Regions from separate parts of the Homo sapiens genome. Here region 1 is linked to region 2. The links come from fine-mapping of genetic effects on gene expression. A gene starts in region 2. The other region holds a variant in brackets. All regions are shown on one strand. Distances are from middle to middle.

Evidence for each region.
Region 1: its variant is fine-mapped to the expression of INHBA in tibial nerve (GTEx, PIP above 0.99). The same link has a PIP of 0.9 or more in pancreas and testis.

The regions. Positions count from the first base shown.
Region 1 is chr7:40,828,472-40,833,852 of GRCh38, reverse strand. The region is part of intron 13 of SUGCT (succinyl-CoA:glutarate-CoA transferase); the gene reads right to left. LOC112267984 (a long non-coding RNA gene) reads left to right here and starts at 3,761. Exons shown (of 2, transcript XR_007060292.1): 1 at 3,761-5,105. The variant T/C (reference allele first, on the strand shown) is at 2,517.
Region 2 is chr7:41,700,748-41,706,128 of GRCh38, reverse strand. It overlaps INHBA (inhibin subunit beta A), which reads left to right and starts at 3,039. Exons shown (of 3, transcript NM_002192.4): 1 at 3,039-3,124. All of the region lies in intron 1 of INHBA-AS1 (INHBA antisense RNA 1), which reads right to left. RefSeq lists an enhancer at 909-998.

The sequences.
Region 1 (5,381 bases), 870 kb after region 2:
TCCGTCACCAAATGCACTTCTTGTACAAAACTCTTTGAACTTGCTGTGGGAGAGGAGAACTCTCTGTTCTAAATGCTGCCTTCACCACTGTCCAGCTGGGATGTTTTAGAACCAAGTCTCTCACTGACTCATTCAGTCCAGAAACAAATAGAGGAAAATTTGCAGCACCTGATCCCAAAGCAGGTGGCTATGCATTAATGATGTAGCACGTGCCAAGATCCTGAAAGGAATGGTTCTAGAGAAATATTGCAGGACCTAATTATTTTTAATGTCTCTCCTAACTTGAAAGTGGTTTGTGTACATGACTTCAATTTTCAAAAGATACAATGCAGCCTGGGACTTTAAAACAGGGAATCTGGCAAATTAACTAATAAGTGTATGAACACATGTTGAAATGGCAAGGCACTAAATAGGCTGGCTTCTCCTACAGAAAAGAGTCATTTAACAGGAGTCAGTTAAGTCAATGTTTACTTTCCACGTAAGGAACTTTACATCACAAATGGGAGAAATAATTCAGCAGGTAGAAAAAAAGGGAAAAAACTTTCCAAGCAGGGAAACTTCCTTGGGTTGTTAATGTTTCTTGTTAAGATGGGTCTTGGAAAACAACCCATCTCAGATCAACATTCCTACATGTGGAGTTTGGATTCTTTTTTTCTTCCAGTAATCTTCAACTACAATGGGATCTATCTGACTATTATTGCAATGTTTAAAAACAGTACTGATCAGATTCCTTTCCAGTGGGACAACCAAGAAAAAATGGACTGCTGAAAAAAAAAATCTAGAGGTAAAATATGCAGACCTGTCAAGGGATGATGGCCCGAGCAGAGGTCTATGGACCGAGGGGATGGCAGCATGCAGAATAGAAGTAGGAGTGGAAGAGGCCCGGCACAGTGACTCACGCCTGTAATCCCAGCACTTTGGGAGGCTGAGGCAGGCTGGTCACAAGGTCAGGAGATCGAGACCATCCTGGTTAACATGGTGACACCCCGTCTCTACTAAAAACACAAAAAATTAGCCGGGCATAGTAGCGGGTGCCTGTAGTCCCAGCTACTTGGGAGGGTGAGGCAAGAGAATGGCGTGAACCTGGGAGGCGGAGCTTGCAGTGAGCCAAGATTGGGCCACTGCACTCCAGCCTGGGTGACAGAGTGAGACTCTGTCTCAAAAAAAAAAAAAAAGTAGGAGTGGAAGAAACAAAGAAGGCCTGAAGCAATAGGTATATCTGGCCTGAAATCTTCCTCTCTAGCTAATTCTTTGTGGCTAGGAGTGCTCACATCCGGGAAAAAAAAAAAACAAAAAAAACCCTGGAAAACAAAAAACCAACCAAACAGAAAACCCAGAGTGGATGTATGAACCATTATAGCTATCCTTCTCTTAACTGTTTGGTGCAGAACACTAAAAAATATAAAGTTTGGGAGAACATGTGTCCTATTACGTAATTCTTGGTATAATATTAATACTACCACAACATTAAATGGGACACAGTGTTTTCACAACAATATGATATTAGATGATACTCACAATGACCCTGTAGGATGGAGGATAATTATTTTTCCCACTTAACATTAAAGGAAAATAAGGCCCTGAGAGGTTTCATGTTGCCTAGAATCCCCCAAATAAGGAAGCGGAGCAAGAACCAGAACTGTTGGATGCCTGCTCTGGGTTACTTTTCAGGACTCTGTGTCACCACCTATCTCATGAGTGCTCTCCAGAGATACCCGGACGCACACAGGGACAGCCACACATTTGCATGCACGGCCCCTTGTGAATGGAGACAGGCTCCATACTGCTCACTTTCTTTCATTCCCCTGCACACTTAAGTTACTGTACCACAACACCCAAGACCCCCCAACATGTGCTGTTGCCCTGAAACTGGAGTTACTACTATATAAGTGTTCTAAACATAGGCTATTGTCCTGCCAGAAGACTCCTCCTCTGGGAGTCCCTGGAGCCCCCTCTAGGCTGTCCTGCCAGTGTGTGAGCCTGTACTCTCTTCCTCCTTAATATGCCTGGTAGCCTTCATCACACTACAGGCCTATAGCCAGCCCTGCTGAATTCAGGCTGGGGTTGGGGTGAATAGTAAGAAGAGTATCACACAGAGATAGGATCTAGAGGTGTAACATGTAAACAGAAGTGTTCTTAGTGTTCACAGTCGGAACTCAAGGTTATATTTTCCCACAGAATCCATGTGACTGATGCTGACTTGCTAATGAGATTCAATAATTCTGGGAGTATTTAGTAGCATCTTGGTTAAACATCTGCATTATATAGGGCTTCAAGGATGACTGCAAGACCCTAACCATCATTGATAATATTGTTTCTATGGGGAAATGTGTTTGAAGTTTCGTATGACAGCCCTCCAAAGAAATTCTAGCAAACAAACCCATTTGAAAGTTGGGCACTGCCTGTCTTCCAGCACTGGCTGTTCTCCCTCTCACTCTCTCCAACCTAACCTGTTTTCTTATATCCAACTTCTGGGTGGCCCATGAAGGCTATTGCTCCTCTGAGGCCACAGCAGG[T/C]GTAAGCAATGAGGAGAAGGTGAAAGTGCTGGGGAACAGTCCCAGCAGTAGAGGGAGGGGGGCAGGAGAGGGAAGAAGACAGAGTTGGAATCATCACCAGACAGCAAACATTGGGTGAGCCTACACTGTTGATAGGACACAGGCTTTTTACGGGAATCTAAAATGCAACTTTTAGGCAGGATGAATGTCATTAAGAAAGCACAGGCCGTGGCATGAGGCAGGCCTGGGGTACATTCTGTTTCTTATTAAAAATGATGATCTTAAGCTAAATACTTAACCTCTTAGAAGGTTCAGCTTTCTCATCTCCAAAATTGAGACGACATTACTTCTCAGGGTGTTTGTGAAGATCAAATTGTGTAAATGTGATTATTACAATCTTCAGCAGCATTTACCAGACAGTTGAATGTTGCTTTTTCTTACTTTCCTCCTTTGAGAGATGCAAGGTGGTACAGGGGAAAGATTAGAGTAAAAATAAGTGGATTTGAATTCTAGTCTCAGAATCAACCCCATGGAGGGGCTGGGCACACTCTCCGAGTTACTGTCTTCTGTGCTGTCCTCTGAGGACTTTTGCTGGTAGCAATGAATCAACATATGTGTGAATGGCTGCAATGAGCTGGTCAATAATTATCATTCACTGTTTTGACAAATGTGTGTTGAGTGCCTACTATAGGCCTGGCGCCACCTTAGAAACATGAATCCAGCCAAGGAGAAATAATCAAGGCAGGCCTGTTCTGTTAGATGGAGTGATCAGGGAAGTTTCTCTGAATAGATGAGATTTGAGCAGAGACCTCAGTGAGGAGTGGGAGTGAGCCACAGAAATATCCAGAAAGAGGCATCTAAGAAGAGGGAATAATCAGAGTAAAGGCCAGGCTGTCAGGGTCTGCTAGGGCCTGATTGAGACATTGCAAGGAGGTCCTCAGGGGTCTTCATGACTAGTGCAGGGAGCAAAAAGTATGGGCACGGGGCATGGACAGGGGAGGGCAGGACCAATGGTCTGTTGATATGTGCTCTGCAAACCGCTGGAAGGACTTTCTCCTAACTTCTAGGTACTCAAGCCCTTGGAAGGTCTTGAGTGAAGGAGTTTACATTGTGAAAAGCCACATGGAGAAGAAACTGGTAGCCCAAGGGTGAAGGCAGGCAAGCACTGGGAGGTGACTGTGGTCAGCAGAGCAGACCTGAGATGAGGCTCTGGGCCTGGGGTGGTGGCAGTTGGGGACACAGATGTATTCTGACTCAATGTGTGTGTGGTGAAGTAGAGCCAATTGGGTGTGCTCATGACGTGGTGGTGGAATGTGGGAGAAAGAAGGAAGCAGAGAAAGAATCAAATTGTTGTCCTTTTTACTCTAAAGATGATGCTAGTTACTGCAATGGGAGAATACTGGGGGAGAAATGGTTTTTGAAGGAAAGTCAGCATTCTATTTTGGATTGAGTTTGCCACATGCTACATGAATTGAGTTTTCTATATGCTTTTGGTGTCTGTGTGGAAATGTGATGCAGGCCCTGGAGCTAGGGAAGGGTGCAGGCCTAGAGAGAGACACTGGGGAGGCCTCCACAGAGTGATATGGGTGAAAGCACAGGGCCGGACATGGTCATCTGTGGAGTAGGAATGGAGGAAAGGGAGGAGAACCCACCATGACACTGCACAGCATTTTAGAGGTCTGAGGAAGGAGATGCCACTCCATGCATGGAAAGTGACATGACAAAAGAGGCCCTTTCTTACAAAAATTCTTTGTGTCCTTTTTTTTGTTACTGCTTTTGTTTTTCTTTTTATTAAAATAATTATGAAATATTTCAAAACATGCTGAATACTGAAAATAAAATAACTGACACTCCACCCAGATTTCTAACTTGTGAACATTTTGCCACTTTGCAATTGATGGCAGGCAAATCCCAAAATTGGGGCTCAGCCCAGGAGGGTTCTTGACTTTGCTCAGGAAAGAACTGAAGAATGAGCTGGCAATGAAAGAAGGCAAGTTTATTAGAGCAACAGTGTATGGCAAAGTGGCTGCTCCCCAGAGCAGGGTTCTTTCATAGGCAGAGCTGCCCAGAGCAGCAGCAGCAGCAGCAGCAGCAGTCCTTATGGATTGCTGGCTAGCTATATTTATACACAGTCTTCGTTATATGCTATTTAAGGAGTAGGTTATTCAGAATTTTCTAGAAAAGGGGTGGGGGAGTTCCTGGAACCATATAAGGAAACTTCTGGGTTGTTGCCATGGCATTTGTAAACTGTCATGGCACTGGTGGGACTGTCTTTATGCTTATTAGCAGTGAGGGCAAGAGGGTCACTTTTGTTGCTATCCGCTGGTTTCGGCTGGTGTCTTTGCTGCATCCTGCTTTGATTAGTAGGGTCATGATCGGTGCTCGGAATATAAGTCCTGCTGGTCTCCCATCTCACTATATTCATTTCAAAGACAACTAAAGTCATGCCCCCAAACCGCTAAAGTCATGCGGTCCAAACCGCTTCTTTTTCCTTCTCCAGGAGGCTTTAGTGAGCAATGAGAACAGTGCCTGGTGTGTGGGAAGTTCTCAGTGAAGGTCAGGAACTGTGGCGCCGCTGGAGGTGGTCTTTACCATTATGATGATATTGAGGTCAGTCTTTCCCATGCATTTTCTAGCTCTTACTGCATAAAGGTATCTCCATAACAATGCACAGTACAATTTTGTATGTTTTTCAAATTAATGTAAAGGGTAAATTTTTGTATTCTTTTGTATCTTTTTTTAATTCAACATTGTGTTCTTGAGTTTTTTTTTTTTTTTTTTACTGTAGCAAGTCAGACACAGTTTAGAATATAACGGTAATAGGAGGAGGAAACAAAATCTTTGCAGAGAGAGCAACATGAAGGTGCTTTGGAAGCCCCAATATGC
Region 2 (5,381 bases):
GCCAGCACACGAACGCTGGCCTCTCCCCCATTCGCACAATTGAGCTCTTATCCTTAAACGAACTTTGTTTTTTGACCAGCTCACTAATTGTGATTGAAAACACCAGCTCCCCAGCAATGCACACGCATTGGAGTTAGCAGCAGCAAGACAGGCCCTAATTGCTCCATTTACATAAAAGTAGAAACATACAACTTCTAAATATAAATCTCTGGCACATCGTTCCTTTTGCAATTACAGTAAAATAAGGTACCACAGTTTCCCTCCCGGCTCCTTCTCGCAGCAAGCTGCTCCACCGGGTTCGCTAGTGGCTGCTCCTCGAGGCGAGAACAGAGCCATGCAAATGCTCCAGCGTGGAGTTGGGTTTGTGAAGTCGCCAGTAAATCAGGCCGCCTCCACTAGGTGAATAACGCGGTGGCAGCGGGCCACTTTGCTAGTGCAGTCGCTGGAGGACCGCGCTCCGCACTCAGAAGGGGGCAGTTGGCTGGTGCGCGAGCGCTCCCGGCTCGCCTCTGTCCGCGGGGAGCCAGCCGGCCCCTCCGCAGGTCCCGCTCCCTGACATTTGCTGTGGTTTCACTCCCTGGCACTGAGGGCTGGGTTCAGAGATTCCCAGCTGCACTCACTGAACAGTGATTTTTTTCCCCTCCCTGAATTCTTTAGCTGCCAAAAGGGGGGAAAAAATCAAGAGCTGCTCTTAAAAGAAGTTGCCCTTGCTGGTGCTCAGGGTAAAAATAGAGGCTGCCGCTTAGACCGGCTTGGCCCTGGCTCCAGGCATCCTGCGAGCTGGGCTCGAGCAGCGGCCGCGTTCCGGCGTGATCCCTGGAAGCTGCCAGCAGGTGCTGCTCAAGGTACAGTAGCAGGGCCGAGAAGCCGGGACCCGAAGGGCCTGGGGTGCGGGGAAGCTCCGGGGGAGGGGGAAGTGAAAGAGAAACCAAACCAAGGAAGGAGAAGGAGATTCTGGTCAGGACTGGGCTGACCAGCTTGTGCCCCGGGCCCTTGAGTTCCGCAGGGAAAAGCTGATTCCCAGTCTAGAATATTCCACAGAAGCTATTTTAACCTGCCTGCTTCCTCCACCACCCCCACCTTGATTTGCACCGAGGGAGGAGGCATTGCCACTGTGGTGCAGGTGGTTGCAGAGGGGTTGCAGCACGGCTGGTAGGCTGGCCTGGCAGGTGGGCACTCGGTGGCATCAGATGGCCAGCGGAGTTTCAGAGTCACACTTGTGTTGTGGCTCCTCTGGTCAGAGAGCTGCAGATTCCTGTGACACCCATGTTTAAGAACAGCCACCAGGCTTCTCAGAAATAGTATCACTTATTATTATCTGACAGCTGCACTTGACCCCCACAGGTTCATATCATGGATCCCATTTTATAGATGGGAACACTGAGGCCTGAGTTTACACGGTGAGTGAGCAGAGGAACTGGGATCTGATCTGGGTTTGTTTTGTGCCCCCCACCCCCACCCCACGTCACCTACACACACACACACACACACACACACACACACACACACACACACACTACTTTGTGTGGAGGCGGAGGGGATGTTTTCAGGACACTAGGGTTCATGTGTGGGTCAGGGGTGAGTTTAGATGCCCTGAAGGTCATTGACTCCACTAATTCTCAGCAAAAAGGGTGGAGAAGTTTCTTTCTTATAAAGGGTTTGAGTTCACCCAGTGCTAAGCTGAGGGGCAGGTTTGGAGTTCACCATCATTAATCCTATTTCTGTCTTCGCCACTCAGATTCACTCTCTTCCTCTACAACCTAATGATTTTTTTCCTACTTCATTTCTGCATATGCAGTTCTTAGAATACTCCTTCCCCCCACCCCCATGCAGCTCAGCACCCACACTTTCTCTGTATCTAGCCAAGAGAGACCCTTTTACACAGAAAACTTCTGGTGTCCTAATGGAACCTGCTTAAGCCACACATCAGGAGGCCAGAGCCTCTATATTTTGCTTGTGGGCACAGTGAAAAGTTTATTTTATGCATGTTAAATCCTGCATACAAAACAACATATCTGGTCATATGGCTCTCATTAGCTCCCAATTTTGCACATTTTATCCAACTTGTCATGAGAACTGGGCTTATGCTTCAACTGTAGTCCTTCAAACAACCCTTCACCGTTCTTGTCAGAGGACCCCTTCCTCCTGTGTTATTTACCAGACTTGCCAACACCCCTCCCCCACAAAAAAAGCCTGACCAGCTTTACCCCTATTTCAAGGAGTGTTCACTTCTTTTCATTAATCTGCTGTTATATTTGTAACAATTTAGAAATTATAGGAGTTGAAGTTCTGGTAAAAAAGAATGATGCATGAGGGTTTTTGTTGTTGTTGTTGTTGTGTGTGTGTGTGTGTGTGTGTGTGTTTGGTTAGTTAGAATGAGATTCTAAAGACCTGGGAAGGATACTTATGAAGTTCATTTAAAGAGAATTACTATTTCCAAAGTTCTTGATTTATGAAGCAGGCATTCAATTTCAAGATGTAAAATAATAGTGTAAGTTGGTTGGGGTCGGGGGAGACCATCATCATATGATTATACAGATTTTCCCAATTTTTTTCCTCAATGAAATAGCTTATTTTAAAAATATAAAATTAGAATCCCTATAAAGAACACTACCAATTTTCTTTCCTGAAAGAAACAATAAAATACTTTGTAAATAGAAGCAACTTCATGAAGTAACAGATGTTTTATGTAAAGACATAAAACTGAACCTGAATATAACGAGACGTGTGTGCGAGTAGTAAAAGTTGAAAGTTGGACACACTCATTGAGACATATCTATTTGATTCCAATGTTTTTCTAAAAGGTAGAGTAATCCTAGCCAGAGGTTTCACTGGCTCAGTGCATCACCCAGTAGTGTCTCAGAAGCCAGGAAGGGCTTTCCATTAGATAATGAATTATGAAATGTCTCACACTGGAAAAACCAGTCATCCGCTGATGTCATGCTGATTCCAACCAATCCCAAACAAAGCCCCAGCCCTCCTCTGTTTCAGTGGTACCAATGTGTGGTGTACAAATAAGTAGTACAGTATAAAACTTCACAGTGCCAATACCATGAAGAGGAGCTCAGACAGCTCTTACCACATGATACAAGAGCCGGCTGGTGGAAGAGTGGGGACCAGAAAGGTAATGCTTTTTAACTCTTACTTCTGAGCTCTTTACACATTCAAAGATAGGAAAGCTAGGAGGAATTTTACAACTAATTGGCATTTCCAATGTGCATTGTGATGTGTACCTTTTTATATTATTCAGGCAGGTTAATACAGCTTTTAATAGTCCTAGAGCATGCAAATAGATTATATGTTTATACAAGCCACTCAGCACATATATACAAGTACATATGCCAAAGAGAAAGCTATTTTTAAGAGTTACATTCGCAAACAGTAAATTCAGGGAACACACACATACTCAGATGCAGAGAGAATCCAAATATTGATAAGTTGCACTTATCTAAATGCTGCTATTAGGACTCCTGAGTTGTTTAGAGCCATTAAACTTTTGGTTGTATTTCAGACTTTCTTGTAAAACTTAATTGAACTGCAAAACATTTTGGGTACTGTATATGTGACTCCAAATAGGTGGATGATGTTAAGTATTATAGCACAAAGATTTTTTATAAAACCATTGTAACACAAATGTCCCCTGCCTCCCCCATTCTCTTTCACCATCCCCGTAAAAAATATGAGGCTTTTTAGGCAATGTTGACAAAGTTTTAACAATAATGGTGGAGTAATTGATGTTTCTGGAGCTGAAACCCCAAAGGTGTTAGGTTACTTGTAACAGAAAAAGTCTTACAAATAGTTGTTTTGGAAAAGGGGACAGTATATATAATTCAGAAAGCATTGTTAACCTGTGCAAACTGTAATTATAACTTAGTGTCACAATTTTCTTGCCCTCTTCCCCTTGCACTCAGATCTTATCTTGTAGTAATGATATTTATTAACTCTTTCCACCTAAACTGCATTGCTTGACTGTAATGCTATGAACACACTAGGTGTCAGATATAAGCTGAGTGTATCTTCAGAAACCAAGAGGGCTTATGTGTGGGAAAGAAACCGAGAGGGAAGGAACGCTTTAACAGATGGACCCCTTAAAGATTCTTCTGCAAGATAAAAGCAATAAGACAGAAAATGAAAAAGAGGGGAGGGGGAAGAATTTTTTTTAAGCCTTAGAAAGGCATTGTTAAAAAATTCACATTTTTCTTTTTCTGTGCACACTAAAATCCATGATGATTTCATCTGCACTGTTCCTTTGAGGGAAAAAGAAGCAGTCAAGGAGGCTGTCTATGAATGCACTGGTCGGGACAGGCTTGGGGCAAGCTGAAAAAACTACCACATGACAGAGAAAAATAATTTGCCAATATATTTTAGAGAGTCTTTTCCCATAGGACCAGTTATTCAAGTCATACGAGTGCACTCTTTTTATAAAAGGATGTGGGAAAGGCCAAGAGAATTTTGCATTTTATCTGTGAAGTCCGGCGAGTGGTGGTAGGCTGTAATGTGTGAGAGTGAGTGGGTCCCCGGCAGAAGGGGGCAGCTGAACGCGACGGGGAGAAAGCGCTTCTGGAACTTGGGCTTGTGACAGGCTGCCTGCCCTCTGGTCCTTCAGTGCCCTGCTGCATTTCACAGTTGGGAAGAGTGGAGTGTATTATATGACCCCAAACAAAAGTTCCATTGCGCTCTCCTCAGATTGCCTGCCAGTGTTGATGACCTGAACATTTAAATATGAATGAATTGGGGGAAAGGACCATCTCCCCTGGATCCCATCAGGCCAGAACAATCCTCTGTTACCCCTGAGTCCCTCTTCCCTGACCTCCACTACCTGTCCACTGGACCTCCCTGCACCCTCTGCCCCACCACGTGGCCAGGTGGGCGTTCTACCACCTAGGGCTGTGGCTTGGCTGGGTGGAGGGGCGGTGGGAACACTTTTTCAATCAATTCATCCCTATTGATTGAGACACTGTGTTTGTTTGGGGTTTCTTTTCTCCCCTCCAAAAAAGGAAGAAGGTGAAACCAGGAGACTGGGCAGAGAAAGAAAAAAAAATAGTGAACAAAATTAGGATAATTTATTTTAGAAGAGAAAGTAGAACCCCCGAAAATGGTGATATTTGAAGAGAGGTGTCTGTGAGGAAGCTAAGAGCAGAAGGAGAGCAGCCTGTCAGAAAACGGGCTGTCCCTCCCTCCCTAATCACAGCCCTACTCACAGCAAACTCCCTCCCTCTCCATTCACTCACTTACTTAGGGCCAATCCTTTCTCTCTCTCTCTCTCTCTCTCTCTCTCTCTCTCTCTTCCTTTCCCTCTCTCCCTCTCCCCCTCCCTTCCCTCCCTCTCTCCCTCTCTCTCCCCCTTCTTTCCCTCTCTCTTCTCTCCCCCTCTCTCCTCT